2 separate regions of the Homo sapiens genome follow, and region 2 is linked to region 1. The links come from fine-mapping of genetic effects on gene expression. A gene starts in region 1. The other region holds a variant in brackets. All regions are shown on one strand. Distances are from middle to middle.

The links. PIP is the estimated chance that this variant, and not a neighbour inherited with it, causes the effect. A credible set is the group of variants that fine-mapping cannot tell apart.
Region 2: its variant is the best candidate, but not a certain one, in a credible set for the expression of MYL6B in whole blood (TOPMed, PIP 0.55).

The regions. Positions count from the first base shown.
Region 1 is chr12:56,147,892-56,156,222 of GRCh38, reverse strand. It overlaps MYL6B (myosin light chain 6B), which reads right to left and starts at 3,636. Exons shown (of 8, transcript NM_002475.5): 1 at 3,592-3,636; 2 at 2,131-2,350; 3 at 1,383-1,410; 4 at 1,025-1,168; 5 at 631-804. The coding sequence starts at 2,304. It overlaps LOC124902942, which reads right to left and starts at 4,396. Exons shown (of 3, transcript XM_047429954.1): 1 at 4,176-4,396; 2 at 3,592-3,817; 3 at 2,326-2,414. The coding sequence starts at 4,229. The coding sequence ends at 2,380. It overlaps MYL6B-AS1 (MYL6B antisense RNA 1), which reads left to right. Exons shown (of 3, transcript NR_186043.1): 3 at 5,238-5,427. LOC124902943 (a long non-coding RNA gene) reads left to right here and starts at 2,350. Exons shown (of 2, transcript XR_007063328.1): 1 at 2,350-3,094. RefSeq lists an enhancer at 4,483-4,562.
Region 2 is chr12:56,387,820-56,396,150 of GRCh38, reverse strand. No RefSeq gene overlaps it. Among named protein-coding and RNA genes, the nearest start is that of APOF, 29 kb to the right of the region's middle. The variant G/A (reference allele first, on the strand shown) is at 3,274.

The sequences.
Region 1 (8,331 bases):
GCGATTCTCCTGCCTCAGCCTCCTGGGTAGCTGGGATTATAGGTGCGTGCCACCATGCCCGCCTAGTTTTTATATTACTAATAGAGATGGGGTTTTACCATGTTGGCCAGGCCGGTCTCGAACTCCCGAGCTAAGGTGATCCGCCCGCCTTGGTCTCCCAAAATGCTGGGATTACAGGCGTGAGCCACCATACCTGGCCAGGCCACGCTCTTTAGAGTGGTACCTCTTCTTCTCCCATAGCCTCAGTCCTCAAGGGAATCCTCCCCTGGTCATGGATGCCTCTTGCTTTCCATTTCACCCTAGTACTGCTGAAAGTATTGACCCACAAGGAAACAATCCCAGGAGGTTACGAGACTTGTACCAGAACACACAACCCACACGTCTCTTCCAAAATGAAAATTCAGGTTTCCCGCCTCATCCCTTTTCCTCTGCCCTCCGGATGGCACTTTAGCCTCTGGAAGAGCGAGTCCTTCAGATTCTACCCCCATAGCTCTGACCTTCTCAGTCTCCTGCCGACAACCTGCAGGACAGTAAGCCTCCTGCTAGCTCTGCTTATCTGTCCAGTCTTTCTGGCCCACCCCATCCCCCTCTCCACTCTAAAGGAGTTCTGGTCCCCCTTGCCTGCCTCACCAAGGGTGGTGAGAACATGTCTGAGCTCTGCTCCCATGACTTTGCCGTTCCCCTCCTTGTCAAACACACGAAACCCCTCCAAGTAGTCCTCATATGTGCCTTGGCCTCGGTTCTTGGCCACTGCCTGGAGCATGGGCAGGAAAGTCTCAAAGTCCACACGCCGCGACTTCAGCTCTGGAGGTTGGAGAGAGGTAAAGGAGAGGTCATTGTAGTATTACATAGGACCCAGCTCCCAACCCTACCACAATGCTTTCATCCTATTCAGCATTTAGGATATTTTCCTGCTTCTGTGTTTGACAGTTTTTGAAGTCCTGAGATCCACCTCATTCTTTTTGTTACCAACATCCAACTTTTGAAAACTAAAAACCCAAATTGTTCCCAAGGGTCCCCTCACCATCACTCTTGGGGTTCCCCAGGACCTTGAGCACCTCGGCGTTGGTGGGGTTCTGGCCCAGGGCCCTCATCACGTCCCCACACTGGCTGTACAGGATCTTGCCATCCCCCACTCGGTCAAACAGCTCGAAGGCCTCCTTGAACTCTAAAGTATAAGGAAGGGTCAGTGTAGACACTGACTAGGGTTCCCATCACCCCCAGACAGAAGGGAATTTCAGAAACTATGTGAACAGAACAAGGGAGGAAAAGAGGACTAGTATGGGAGGTTTCAAGGTCAGGACTGGGGTTAGGGGAATAGAAAGAGAATCTGACCAGGGGATTGGGGATGGGACAGTGGCCTTAGATGAGCTTCTCCTCACCCTCCAGCTGGTCCTTGTTAAACTCGATCTGTGGAAGAAAAAAGCAGGTGGGGAGAGATGAGAGTTTATTCAATCCCTCTCCCGCACTCCTCCCAACCAACTGGCAGCCACTTCTGAGGAGGGGCCCAAAGGGACCAGGCTGGAAGCCCAGCCACCTCAGTCCCATTCCCAGCTCTGGGCCTTGGGAGAATCCCAAGAAGAGGAATTACAGTGGGGAGGGTTTCCTGGGAACAGGGTTAATCCCATGCCACCTGTTTCCCTCCCTCCATTGCCCTGAGCCCTGCATCCCACACATAACTGGGGGCTGAACAAAGGCTAAATTTACCCCTGGCCCCCAGCTGTGATTGTCTAACAAGTCTGTCCTCTTCAGCCTCCCCTCCTGGAGTTCAGAGCTGCAGGCCTTTTGAATTGAACCACCAGCCAGGGGCAGGCAACAGCTCTCTTCCCTTCACCTTGAAACTGTTCTCAGAACCCAGATGTTCCCCATCTAAGAGTCCCTGCCTCCAGCAGGGGGTAAGTGAGTGTGTATGTGCTGTACACACATGATTATAGGTTAGAGGGAGAGAACAGCAAAGACAACAGCAGAGTCATAAGACTGGATGCTTCCAAATGGGGGACTAAGGGAAAGCCCCAATCTCATTCCAGGGCTCACTGATTCCCTACCTTCTAGATACCCCCTAATCCCCTAGGCTGTATCCCACCCTCAAACCACCCCCTCCAATTCTATCTTCACTTTCCAGAGACTCACCACCACTTTGGAGAGATCGACTGGAGGCTCCTGGGTTTTCTGAGGGGCCTGGGGGACAGCTGGCTCAGCTTTGGTCTTGGCTGGAGGAGCCCCTGCTGCTGCTGGCTTAGCAGCAGGTTTGGAGATGGAGGGCCCTGCTGGTTTCTTCACGGGAACATCCTTCTTGGGAGGCATGATGTCCGGTGGCCAAAGGACAGTGTGCGGATGGGGGCACCCATCTCTGTTTAAATAGCCAGGGAGTCTGGGATGTCAAGGGGCGGGGGCAGGGGCAGGGAGCCAGTTGGCTGTGGCAAAGATGAGGTAGAGGAGAGATATAACCGCCTGCCCTCACTCCCCTGGCCTCCTATGGTTCAGGACTCCTGCCCCAAGGTCTTCTTCCCTCTGTCCCCTTATCCCCAAAGGCTGACCAGAAAAGAACAATGTTTCCTTTAGGGGTAGGGGAGGAAGCCAGAGACTGCCCAGAATGAGGTAGTTAACCTCCAGGGTGAGGATAGGATGCTTGCCAGTGGCACTGAGATGGGGGTGGTGAGGCAAAGCAGGTGATCCAGCAGCTTTAGTCTTCTTGAAGGGTGGGGTGAGGGGTAGCAGCCAGGGAGGCTTGTGTGAACTGGAACAAGTTAAAGTGTGGTCTGGGAGCAATGACAAAAACAAGAAGCCCATCTGCCCAGCCCCTCCACTCCCTTCTGACCATGGCTTTGTAAAGAGCAGGGGTAGTTAACCTTAGAGTCTAATGATCCCTAATACTTGTAGTTCCTGAGCCCCCACCCAGCCAAGAACTGGAACTATTCACAGTATAAAGGAAGAATAGTCATAAAAACAGGAGTATGACATCCCTCATTGTCTCCTGTGCCCAGTGTTGTTTTAGGGGCAGGAGTGGGGGCAAAGATCAGGTTTAACATCTGCTACCCATTCTTCCATGGAAGAAACCTTCCACAAGCCCACGGTCATTCAAGACAAACAAAAGGTAGGGTGCTTGCTGAACCTGTGGGGACCCTTTGGTGGCACCTGAGGAGAAGGGCAGGCTCTGGGAGACGGCTTAAATTCCCTAATCCAAGAGGATGTGGGCGCTCCTATGGCTCCATGAGTATTCACCCCACAACCAGGGGTATAATAAAAATCCTGACTCAGGGGCCAGGTCACAAACCTTGCCAGGGGCGCTGGGAGAGAGTCCAAGTTGGGGGGCGTTTGGGAGTGGGGAGGGATTGCAGGCTACTTTTGTTCTGGGGTAAATTAGGAAAGGATTTAGGTAGCATTCTGAGGAAGATAGCAGTGATTCCACTTAGGCCCCGGGGTTGATGCTGGGTCTCCCATTCGCAAAACAGCGTCTGAATCTCATGACTGCAAATTGTCCCATTTTTACAAAATACATCACACACACACGACACACACACACACACACACACTCACGCACCCCCACTAAATCTTAAAGAAAATGGCCCTCCTCAGCCCCCAAAAACTCACCCTGCGGGGTCCGTGTCTGGGGCTGGGGAGGGGGCGGGGCATAGCGCGGCCCCCAGCCCTGAAGGGTTAATTCCGGTGGCCGCGGAGCATGCCGGGAGTCGTAGTTCCCCGCGGGCTCACGGGATGCGCCGCGCTCTAGATTGCAGTTGACGCGAGGGCGGTGGCTTCCGGCCCATGGCGGTGGTTGGTGACTCAGTGTCCTTCCAGCGCGCTTTATGTCCCGGAACTGAAAGGCAATGAACAATTTCCAATCCACCCCAACCCTAAAAACCCTGCGGGGCCCCTAGGGTATCCCTCCTACTTAACCCTGGCGGGCTCCTAGTCTCGGGAGGTGGAGGGGGCGGGGCGGCTGTTTTCCTGGACCTACTGCTGAAAGAACTCAGAACCTGGGGAAAGATTGAGGCTGCAGCAGGCAGCGTGGAGGTCAGATAGCTGGAAGCACTTAACGGCCCCGGGGAGAACCGCTGCACTCTCTTTTGCTTCCTCTCGCGGTTTGGTAGAAAAAAAAGAGGCCTCAGAGTAGTTTGTTTTTAATGAGCTGGTTGCTGAAGTAAATGTTAAAATTTGCAATTAAGCCCAGTCACCTGCCCCAGCCTTCTCTGATCGAGGTTTCCATCCTGCGGCAGCATATGCGCCATCCTCCTCGATCTTCACAGGTCTCTGAGCGGAGGGCTGGGCTTTCCAGCCCTACTTTCTGAAACTCTTATGGTCAGCATTGGAGTTCACTGGTTCCCCTAGGCGTTGATCAGAGGATGGGAACCAGCCCGGCCGGGCCCACCTTCACTCACTGGATCAGTAAATACCCTGGCGGTGCACCTGGTGTTGGAAGCTGGTGCTGCACAGGCGTGTGAGGATTAGATCAGAGCAGAAAACTCGGGCGATGGCAGGGTGGTGAGGCACAGGTGAACTTTATGGGCAGTAAGTGAGGTTCACTGGTTGGGGAAAGTTTATTGGAAAGGTAGAAATGAATTGTACGACAGAAATAACGATAATAGTAAGTTAGCAACCATTTCTGGAGGCCGCCATAGATCTCGTACCGGTGAAGGGGCTAAATTATCTCAGAGGGTGCTCAAGTGGATGGGGTTCAGACAGCCTACTCAGATTTAAATCCTGGTTCTACCAGGTCCTAGTTAGTGACCCTCAGCAGGTTTAGTTATCTCTCCTGGGCCTCAGTTCCTCATCTGTAAAATAATGATAATGGTACCTACCTCATAGGGCTCTTCGGAGGATTCGAAGTGTTATTATTGGTAAAATAGGGCCGGGCTTGGTGGCTCACACCTCCCAGCACTTTGGGAGGCGAGGCAGGTGGGTCACCTGAGGTCAGGAGTTCGAGACCAGCCTGGCCAACATGGTGAAACCCTGTCACTACTAAAAATACAAAAAAAAAAAAAAAAAAAAAAAAAAAAAAAAATAGCTGGGCCTGGTGGCGGGCGCCTGTAATCTCAGTTACTTGGGAGGCTGAGGTCGGAGAATCACTTGAACCCGGCAGGTTGCAGTGAGCCGAGATCGCACCACTGCACTCCAGCCTGGGTGACAGAGTGAGACTCCAACTCAAAAAAAAAAAAAAGTGTAAAATAGAATAGGCCTGGCACAGCATAAGTGCTGTATAAGTTTTTGTTAAATAACTTTCCTTTAATCTTCCCAAGGTATGAGGTCGCTGATATTTTCCCCATTTTACATCAATGAAGTAAGGATCAATAGGTGTTGTGAAGAGACGGAGAGGAAGAAGGAATACATTTTTAAGTGGTTATAAGACTGGGAAAGGGCCACATTATAGATGCCTTTGTGTGGCTTTCATTACTTTTGCAGACATTGATTTCAAAATATGGCTCTTGTAATTTTTTTTCTTTCCTTTTCCCATTTTTGGCATTTTGCCAAGTATGAGTGGTTATGGCATCATCTGACTTTCTAGCATTTTCTATAGAGAAGTAGTACAGGGAAAAAACGTTAAGACCCTTGCAGAGATGGGAAGGCTATCCTTCATTTTCTGTGCCATCCCTGTCTTGATCATAAATAACAGGAACTGGACGAAACATGGTCTTAACTGGGCATAGGGTGATTATATATGTGAATTATCTGTGAGAAATGCCTGTCTCTCCTCTCTCCTCTCCCTGCTTAGCATGTGATTTGTATATTCTTATTTTTCTTTGGTTTTGTTTTTTTCTAGAAATGAGGTCTCACTGTGTTACCCAGTCTCAAACTGAGCTCAAGTGATCTTCCCATCTCAGGTGCCTCCCAAAGTGCTGGGATTATAGGTATGACCTACCTTGACTGGCCTGTATATTCTTAGAGATTGCATTTTGTGGGCAGGGAGGGAGGTGAGTCCGAAGCTTGCTTGCCTTCCCTAGGCATGCCGTCCTCCAGGAACCTCCACATGTTCAGCTGTCCAGAGTGGCCCATTAGATTGAAAGAATATGGAAAGCCATTGGGGAGCTGTTCCGCAGTGCACAGGTCTATGCACACTTACCCCCAAAGTCCAAGGAAGCTAAGAGGTTGAGGAAGGAGGCTGACAAATCCAGTTTCTTAGAAATATTTAATAGGAATTTATGAACAGAAGCCATGTCTGTGTCTTGGGTAGTGGTGAGACACGATGGTGGATCCCCAGGACATCATCCCCTGGAGTAAGTCCTGACCCCAGGACTTACCACAGGGAAGGAACCTCTAGGACAATTGAAGTCTACCCTGCAGGGAAAGGCAAGAATACTCAGTAAGCCAGGCTTTATGATCAAGATTGTTTTGATCTAAGGAGAAATTATGGTAAGTACATGCTCTTACACAAAGAACAGTAGATAAAATAGAAATCTTAGAGGCATTCCCAAAACTGGGGTTAATCAGACATGAACATTCCCAGCACTTTGGGAGTCCAAAGTGGGAAGATCACTTGAGCCCAGAAGTTCAAGACCAGCCATGGCAACATAGCAAGAGACCCCAACTCTACAAAAAAAATTCAAAAATTAGCCAGGCATGGTGGCACGTGTGCCTCTGATCCCAGCTATTCAGGAGCCTGAGGTGGGAGGATCACTTGGGCCCAGTAGGTCAAGGCTGCAGTGAGCCATGTTTGTGCCACTGCCCTCCAGCCTGGGCAACAGAGTGAGACCCTGTCCTTAAAAAATTTTTTAAAAAAAGCAGGCCGGGCGTAGTGGCTCATTCCTGTAATCCCAACACTTTGGGAGGCCAAGGAAGGTGGATCACCTGAGGTCAGGAGTTTGAGACCAGCGTGGCCAACATGGTGAAACCCTGTCTCTACTAAAAATACAAAAATTAGCCAGGCGTGGTGGCAGGCGCCTGCAATCTCAGCTACTTGGGAGCCTGAGGCATGAGAATCCCAGGAGGCGGAGGTTGCAGTGAGCTGAGATTGTGCCACTGCACTCCAGCATGGGCAACAGAGGGTGACTCCATCTAAAAAAAAAAAGAGAAAGGCTGAGCGCCGTGGCTCATGCCTGTAATCCCAGCACTTTGGGAGGCCGAGGTGGGCGGATCATCTGAGGTCGGGAGTTCGAGACAAGCCTGACCAACATGGAGAAACCCTGTCTCTACTAAAAATACAAAATTAGCCAGACGTGGTGGTGTATGCCTGTAATCCCAGCTACTCAGGAAGGCTGAAGCAGGAGATTCGCTTGAACCCGGGAGGTGGAGGTTGTGGTGAGCCGAGATCATGCCATTACACTCCAGCCTGGGCAACAAGAGTGAAATTCTGTACCCCCCTAAAAAAAAAAAAAAAAAAAAAAAGAAAGGTGGAATGGGTGGGAAGTGTTATGTGGAAATAGGCTCCCAGAGAGCACAGTGGAAAAGGTTGAGAGGAAGAGAAGCAGAAGGAGATTGTATTAGGGCCCTTTAGCTGCTCTCTTCAAGCATGTTTATTCAGTATACGTTCCTTTTTGTGTTTTGTTTGGGAGACAGGAGTCTTGCTCTGTGGCCCAGGCTGGAGTGCAGTGGTGCATCTTAGCTCACTGCAACCTCCACCTCCTGGTTTCAAGTGATTCTCATGCCTCAGCCTCCCAAGTAGCTGGGATTACAGGTGTGTGCCACCATACCTGGCTAATTTTTTTTTTGTATTGTTAGTAGGGATAAGGTTTTGCCATGTTGGCCAGGGTGGTCTCGAACTCCTGACAGGTGAGCCACCGCCTTGGCCTCCCAAAGTGCTGGAATTATAGGCATGAGCCATTGCGCCCGGCCTCTGTATACATTTCCTTTCCTCTCCCCCGAGAAACAGGGGCTTGCTCTGTTGCCCAGGCTCTGGATGCAGTGGCACAATCATAGCTCACTGCAACCTCAAATTCGTGCGCCACCGTACCTGGCTATTTCTTATATTTAGTTGTTATAGTTTTTGTTTGTTTGTTTGTTTTTTGAGATGGAGTCTCACTCTTGTCACCCAGGCTGGAGTGCAGTGGTGCAATCTTGGCTCACTGCAAGCTCCGCCTCCCGGGTTCATGCCATTCTCCTGCCTCAGCCTCCCAAGAAGCTGGGACTACAGGCGTCCCACACCCAGCTAATTTTTTGTATTTTTTAGTAGAGACAGGGTTTCACTGTGTTAGCCAGGATGGTCTCAATCTCCTGACCTCGTGATCTGCCCGCCTCGGCCTCCCAAAGTGCTGGGATTACAGGTGTGAGCCACCGCGCCCAGCAATTTTTGTCTTTTTAGTACAGATGGGGTTTCATTATGTTGGCCAGGCTGGTCTTGAACTCCTGACCTCGTGATCCGCTGGCCTCTGCCTCCCAAAGTGCTGGGATTATAGTGTT
Region 2 (8,331 bases), 240 kb before region 1:
CTGATTCTCATGACTCGGCCTCCTGAGTAGCTGGGATAACAGGCACATGCCACCACACCTGGCAGATTTTTGTATTTTTTAGTAGAGATGGGGTTTCACCATGTTGGCTAGGCTGATCTTGAACCCCTGGCCCCAAGTGACCTGCCTGCCTCTACCTCCTCCCAAAGTGCTGGGATTACAGGCATGAGCCACTGCACCTGGCCTCTGTTGTTTGATATGTACACATTTAGGATTGCTGTGTCTTAGGCTGGGCACGGTGGCTCATGCCTCTAATCCCAGCACTTTGGAAGATTGAGGCAGGTGGATCACTTGATGCCAGGAGTTCAAGACCAGCCTGGGCAACATGGTGAAAGTATCTTTACAAAAAAAATACAAAAATTAGTCAGGTGTGGTGGTGTGCATCTGTAGTCCCAGCTACTTAGGAGGCTGAGGTCAGAGGATCTTTTGAGCCTGGGAGGTTAAGGCTGCAGAGAGCCATGATCTGACCACTGCATTCCAGCCTGGGTGACAGAGCAAAACTATATTTTAAAAAATGGCTGTGCCCTCTTGGTGGGTTAACCCTTTATTAATTAAACAATGTTCCTCTCAATCTGCAGTAATTTTCATTGCTCTTAATTCATTTTATCTGGTATTAGCATGGCCAGTCCTGATTTCTTTTGAGTAATATGTGTATGATTTATCTTTTATTTTTTATTTTTTATTTTTTTGAGATGGTCTTTCACTCTTGTTGCCTAGGCTGGAGTGCAATGGCGTGATCTCGGCTCACTGCAGCCTCCGCCTCCTGGGTTCAAGCGATTCTCCTGCCTCAGTCTCCCGAGTAGCTGGGATTACAGGCAGGTGCCACCACGCCTGGCTAATTTTTTGTATTTTTAGTAGAGGTGGGGTTTCTCCACGTTGGCCAGGCTGGTCTCAAACTCCTGGCTTCAGATGATCCACCCACCTCAGCCTCCCAAAGTGCTGGGATTACATATGTGAGCCACCGCACCTGGCCTATCCTTTTACATTCAACTTACCTATGTCATTATATTTACATGTACATGTACATATACATGTTGTTTTTTATTTTTCTACCAGTCTTTTAATTGGTATGCCTAGATCATTTACATTTAATGTAATTTTTGATATATTAGGGCTAAGTCTGCCATTTTATGTTTCTTTTTGTTTGTTTCAGCTCTCATTTTCATTACTCTTTGACCTTTTTCCCCTTCCTGTGGATTACTTGAACATTTCTTTAAATTCCTTTTTGATTTATCTGTTATAAATTTTTATTTATTATGAATGTTTTTAGTGGTTGGTCTAGATATTGCATTATACATATGAAACCTATCACAATTACTGGTGTCAACATTTTATCAGTTTGAGTAAAGTATAGAAATCTTACCTCCATTTAGGTCCCTTAACATTCCCTCCCCCTTGTATACTATAATTATCTTAAATATTTCCTATCTATATATTGAGAACCATATCAGATAATATAATTTTTACTTCAGCCATCCAATATAATTTAGAAAACTCAAGATGAGAAGATTGACCTATTGTCATGTATTTATATTTTTATACTTCCTCTTCTTTCTTCATAATTTTTGTTTTGTTTGGTTTTTTGGTTTTTTTTTTTTTTGAGATGGAGTCTCACTCTGTTGCCCAGTGTTGGAGTGCAGTGATGTGATCTTGGTTCACTGCAACCTCTGCCTCCCAGGTTCAAGTGATTCTCCTGCCTCAGCCTCTCGAGTAGCTAAGACTACAGGCGTGCGGTACCATGCCTGGCTAATTTTTGTATTTTCAGTAGAGATGGTGTTTCGCCATGTTGGCCATGCTGGTCTTGAACTCCTGACCTCAAGTGATCTGCCTATCTCAGCCTCCCAAATTTTCTTCACAATGTTTTAAGCTTTGTTTCTTTCTTTTTTTTTTAAGAGTAGGTCTGGTGGAAGCAAATTATCTTAGTTTCCCTTATCTGAGAAGCTCTTGATTTCACCTTCATTCCTGAAGGATATTTTTGCTGGGTATGGGATTTAAAGTTGACGTTTGTCTGTTTGTTTGTTTGTTTGTTTGTTTGAGTACTTGGAAAATGTGCCATTCCCTGCTGGTCTCTATGGCTTCTTATAAGAAATCTACTGTCAATGGAATAATTGTTCCTTTATAGGTACTATGTTGTTTCTATTTGCTTCCAAGACTTTTTTCTTTGTATTTATTTTAGGAAGTTTGCTTATGATGTGTCTTGCAATAGATTTCTTTGAATTTATTCTACTTAGGGTTCACTCCATTTCTTGAATCTGTATGTTCATGTGCTCTAAATTTCCTTCTAAGCACAGCTTTAGCAACATCTTACAAATTTTGACATGTTCTGTTTTTATTTTCATTCAGCTCAAAGTACTTTTTGAATTTTCTTTTTACTCTTTGAAATGAAAATTACTTAAATGTGTGTTATTTAGTTTCCAAATACTAGGCTATCATCCAGATATCAGTAATTAGTTTCTAATTTAATTCCACTGTGCTCAAGGAACATACTTTGTATGACTTGAATCCTTTTAAATTTATTGGTACATTGTTTTGGATTTTTTTTTTTTTTTTTTTTTTTTGAAACAGAGTCTTGCTCTGTCACCCAGGCTGGAGTGCAGTGGCATGATATCAGCTCACTGCAACCTCTGCCTCCCGGTTTTAAGCAATTCTCATGCCTCAGCTTCCCAAGTAGATGGGACTACAGGTGTGCACCACTACACCTGGCTAATTTTTGTATTTTTAGTAGAGATAGGGTTTTGCCATGTTGGGCAGGCTGGTGTCAAACTCCTGACCTCAAGTGATCTACCTGTCTCAGCCTCCCAAAGTACTGGGATTAGACATGAGCCACAGTGCCCAGCCTGCTTCTTGTGTTTTGAAGCTCTGTTATCATATGTATAAATGCTTAGAATTGTTAGGTCATCTTAATAAATTGGCCCCTTTTTCACTGTCAAATGACATTATTTATCCCTATAATATTCTTTCCTCTGAAGTCTACTTTTCTTTTTTTCTTTTTTTTTTTGAGATGGAGTCTCGCTCTGTCAACCAGCCTGGAGTGCAGTGACGTGATCTTGGCTCACTGCAACCTCCACCTCCCGGGTTCAAGCGATTCTCCTGCCTCAGCCTTCTGAGTAGCTGGGACTACAGGTGCGCGCCACCACACCCAGCTAATTTTTATATTTTTAGTAGAGATGGAGTTTCACCATGTTGGTCAGGCTGATCTCGAGCTCCTGACCTCGTGACCTGCCCACCTTGGCCTCCCAAAGTGCTGGAATTACA[G/A]GCGTGAGCCACCACTGCCGGCCTACTTTTCTTTCTTAAAAAAAAAAAAATCTGTTTTTATAGTGACAGTGTCTCACTATGTTGCCCAAGATGGTCTCAAACTTAGCTCACACATTCCTCCTGCCTCGGCCTCCCAAAGTGCTGGGATTACAGGCGTGAGCCACCATTTCCAGCCCTGAAGTCTGCTTTTGTGATATTAACATAGCCACTCCAGCTTTCTCTAGGTTAGTGTTAGCATGGTATAGTTTTAAAAATCCTTTTACTTATAATTTATTTGTTTCTTTTAAAGTGGGTTTCTTGTAGAAAGCACATAGCTGGACTTTTTTCTTTTATCCAATCTGACAATCTTTGCCTTTTAATTTTGTTGTTTAGACCATTTATATTTAATATCATTATTGACATTGTCAGGTTTAAATATTACATTTTGCTACTTGTTTTCTATTTGTCTCATCTGTTCCTTGTTCTCCTTTCCTCTCTTTCTTCTTTGGGTTTTTTTTTTTTTTTTTTTTTTTCTGAGACAGAGTCTTGCTCTGTCGCCCAGGCTGGAGTGCAGTGGCATGATCTTGGCTCACTGCAACCTCTGCCTCCTGGGTTCACACCATTCTCCTGCCTCAGCCTCCCGAGTAGCTGGGACTACAGGTGCCCACCACCACACCCAGCTAATTTTTTATATTTTTAGTAGAGACGGGGTTTCACTGTGTTAGCCAGGATGGTCTTGATCTTCTGACCTTATGATCTGCCCACCTCGGCCTCCCAAAGTGCTGGGATTGTAGGCATGAACCACTGCACCCAGCTCTTCTTTGGGTTTAACTCAGTATTTTTTTATAATTCTATCTTCTGTTTTTGTTTTGTTTTGTTTTGTTTTTCCCTTTCTGTAACAGGGTCTTGCTCTGTCACCCAGTGTGGAGTGCATTTTGCAATTATGACTCACTGCAGTCTCAAACTCCTGGGCTCAAGCAATCTTCCCACCTTGGCCTCCCAAGTAGCTGGGACTACAGGTATGTGCCGCTACATCTGGCTTTTTTTTTTTTTTTTTAGACATGGTCTTGCTCTATCACCCAGGCTGGAGTGCAGTGGTGCAATCATGGCTCACTGCAGTCTCCACCTCCCACATCCAAGTGATCCTCCCACCTTCAAGTAGCTGAGACCACAGGTTTGTGCCATCACACCTGGCTAATTTTTTATTTTTTATAGAGATGGAGGCTCCGTATGTTGCCCAGGCTGGTCTTGAACTTCTGGGCTCACATAATCCTTCTGCCTCAGCTTCTCAAAGTCCTGAGATTACAGATGTGAGCCACTGCACCCAGCCCCTGAATAACATTTTTTATTTTTTGTAGAGATGGCATCTCGCTATGTTGCTCAGGCTAATCTCAAACTCCTGGCTTCAAGTGATCCTCCTGCCTCAGCCTCAAAAGTGCTGAGATTACAGATATAAGCCACTGTGCCACACCTGCTTTGTTATTTTAGTGTTGCTTTAGGGTTTATAGTAATCATCTCTAATTTATTACAGACTACCTTCAGGTGCTATTTACAGTGTAAGAAACCATAGTATACTTCCATTTTCTCCCTCCCAGCCTTTGTGCTATTGTTACATTTTACACTTACATATGTTATAAACTACATTATTTTTGCCTTAAATAGTCAATAGTCAATTATCTCTTTTAAAAATGTATATTTAAGGGGCCGGGCACGGTGGCTCATGCCTATAATCCCAGCACTTTGGGAGGCCGAGGCAGGCGGATCACCTGAGGTCAGGAGTTTGAGACCATCCTGGCCAACATGGTGAAACCTTGTCTCTACTAAAAATATTTTAAAAATTAGCCAGACGTAATGGTGGGCGCCTGTAATCCCAGCTACTCGGGAGGCTGAGGCAGAATTGCTTGAACCCAGGAGACGGAGGTTGCAGTGAGCCGATACTGTGCCACTGCACTCCAGCCTGAGCTACAGAGTGAGACTCCATCTCAAAAGAAAACACACACACACACACACACACACACACACACACATAAACAAAAATGTATATTTACCTATTTACTATTTCCTATGGTCTTCATTTCTTTATGTACATCCAGATTTTCAATGGAAGTCATTTTCCTCTGTCTACAGACTTTTATTAACATTTCTTAAGCCAGGCGCGGTGGCTGATGCCTGTAATCCCAGCACTTTGGGAGGCCGAGGCGGGCGGATCACCTGAGGTCAGGAGTTTGAGACCATCCTGGCCAACATGGTGAAACCTTGTCTCTACTAAAAATATTTTAAAAATTAGCCAGACGTAATGGTGGGCGCCTGTAATCCCAGCTACTCGGGAGGCTGAGGCAGAATTGCTTGAACCCAGGAGACGGAGGTTGCAGTGAGCCGATACTGTGCCACTGCACTCCAGCCTGAGCTACAGAGTGAGACTCCATCTCAAAAGAAAACACACACACACACACACAAATAAACAAAAATGTATATTTACCTATTTACTATTTCCTATGGTCTTCATTTCTTTATGTACATCCAGATTTTCAATGGAAGTCATTTTCCTCTGTCTACAGACTTTTATTAACATTTCTTAGGCCAGGTGCAGTGGCTCATGCCTGTAATCCCAGCACTTTGGGAGGCCAAGGTGAGTGGATCAACTGAGCTCAAGAGTTTCAGACCAGCCTGGGCAACATGGTAAAACCCTGTCTCTACAAAAAGTACAACAATAAGCTGGGTGTGGTGGTACGTGCCTGTAGTCCCAGCTACTCAGGAGGCTGAGGCAGGAGGATGGCTTCAGCCTGGGAGGCAGAGGTTGCAGTGAGCTGAGATTGGGCCACTGCACTCCAGCCTCAGAGACAGAGCAAGACCCTCCCCCTGAAAAAAGAAACAAAAAACATTTCTTATACTGCAAGTCTGCCAGTGATGAATCCTTTGAGATTTTGAATGTCTTCTTTTTATTTTGGGGGGGCGGGTAGAATTCACATAACATTCACTATTTTAACCATTTTGAAGTGTACAACTCAGTATCTTTCAGTACATTTACAGTTTTGTGCAACTGTCACCAATAATTCCAGAACATTTTCTTCACCCCAAAAAGAAACCCCATACCCATTTTGTCTAAAGACCTTTCACTTACTTCCTGGGTTCTTTTTTGTCCCATTCAGCTACTGGCTCTCCATGTATGTAAAAGAGACCTCTTGGGACTAAGGTTGGGACTCCAGGAAACTAATTGCTTCCCTCCTCCTTAACTTCCACCACCCAGGGTCATAGATCAAATAAAGTTGTTTTTACTGCAGCTGCTGCTGACGGAGCTTAAGAGAATGAGACACATACTATAATACATTGGTTCAACCACCAAAATGCATCCCCTCCTCCTTTTTTTCTTTTTCTTTTTTTTTTCTTTTCCTTTTTTGAGATAGGATCTCCTTCTGTCACCTAGGATGAAGTGCGGTGGTGCGATTACAGCTCACCGTAGCCTCGACCTCTGGAGCTCAAGTGATCCTCCCACCTCAGCTTCCCAAGGAGCTGGGACTACAGGAATGCACCATCATGCTCAGCTACTTTGAAAGTTTTTGTAGAGACAAGGTCTCACTATGCTGTCCAGGCTGGTCTCAATCCCCTGGGCCCAAGTGATCCTCCTGCTTTGGACTCCCAAAGGCATAAGCCACTGTGCCTGGCCTGACCTAGACTCTTAAAATAGCTGGCTCTCTAGGGTTCTAGGGTTCCTCCCTCTAATCTCTTCTTCCTTTAGTTCCTTAGTTCAAGTTCATTTTCTATTCTGTCTGCAGAAATTCTTTTTTTTTTTTTTGTTTGGAGACAGTCTTGCTCTGTCACCCAGGCTGGAGTGCGGTGGCATGATCTTGGCTCACTGAAACTCCGCCTCCCAGGTTCAATCAATTCTTGTGCCTCAGCGCCTCCCAAGTAGATGGGATTACACCTGGCTAATTTTTCTTTCTTTCTTTCTTTCCTTTTTTTTTTTTTTTTTTTTTTTTTGAGACAGAGTTTTACTCTTGTCGCCCAGGCTGGAGTGCAATGGCATGATCTCGACTCACTGCAACCTCCACCTCCCAGGTACAAGCAATTCTCCTGCCTCAGCCTCCGGAGTAGCTGAGATTACAGGCCACCACGCCTGGCTAATTTTTATATTTTTAGTAAAGACAGGGTTTCACCATGTTGGCGAGGCTGGTCTTGAATTCCTGACCTCAGGTGATCCACCCGCCTTAGCCTTCCAAAGTGCTGGAATTAGAGGCATGAGCCACCACGCCAGGCCTAATTTTTGTATTTTTAGTAGAGATGGAGTTTCACCATGTTGTCCAGGCTGGTCTCAAACGCCTAGCCTCAAGTGATCTGCCTGCCATGGCCTCCCAAAGTGCTAGGATTATAGGCGTGAGTCACTAAGCCCAGCCTCTGCAAAAATTCTTTTTTTTTTTTTTGAGACAGAGTGTCCATTTTTCTGTTGCCCAGGCTGGAGTACAGTGGCGCAATCTTGGCTCACTGCAGCCTCCACCTCCCGGCTTCAAGCAATTTTCCTGCCTCAGCCTCCCGAGTAGCTGGGATTACAGGTGTGCACCACCACACTCAGCTAATTTTTTATATTTTTAGTAGAGATGGGATTTCACCATGTTGGCCAGGCTGGTCTCTAACTCCTGACCTCAGGTGATCCACCCACCTTGGCCTCCCAAAGTGCTGGATTACAGGCGTGAGCCACCATTCCCAGCCCCCCTTGACTATTTTCAGTCACCCACACAGAGCAGGCCTTTTCATGCCCCAAGCTGTGGATCATGCCAGTCTCTTTATTGGAGGGTTCTATCCAACCACTAGCCATCCTTCCAGAATCAGCTCAAGCCTGGGCAACAAAGTGAGACCCTGTCTCTACAGAATATTAAAAAATTAGCCAAGCATCATGGTACATGCCTGTTGTCCCACCTACATGGATGGCTAAAGCAGGAGGATCACTTGAGCCTGGGAGGTCAAGGCTGCAGTGAGCTATTATCACACCACTGCACTACTGCCTTGGTGACAGAGTGAGACCTTGTCTCAATAATAATAATACAATAATCAATTATAACAAATGTAGCACACCTATGTAAGATG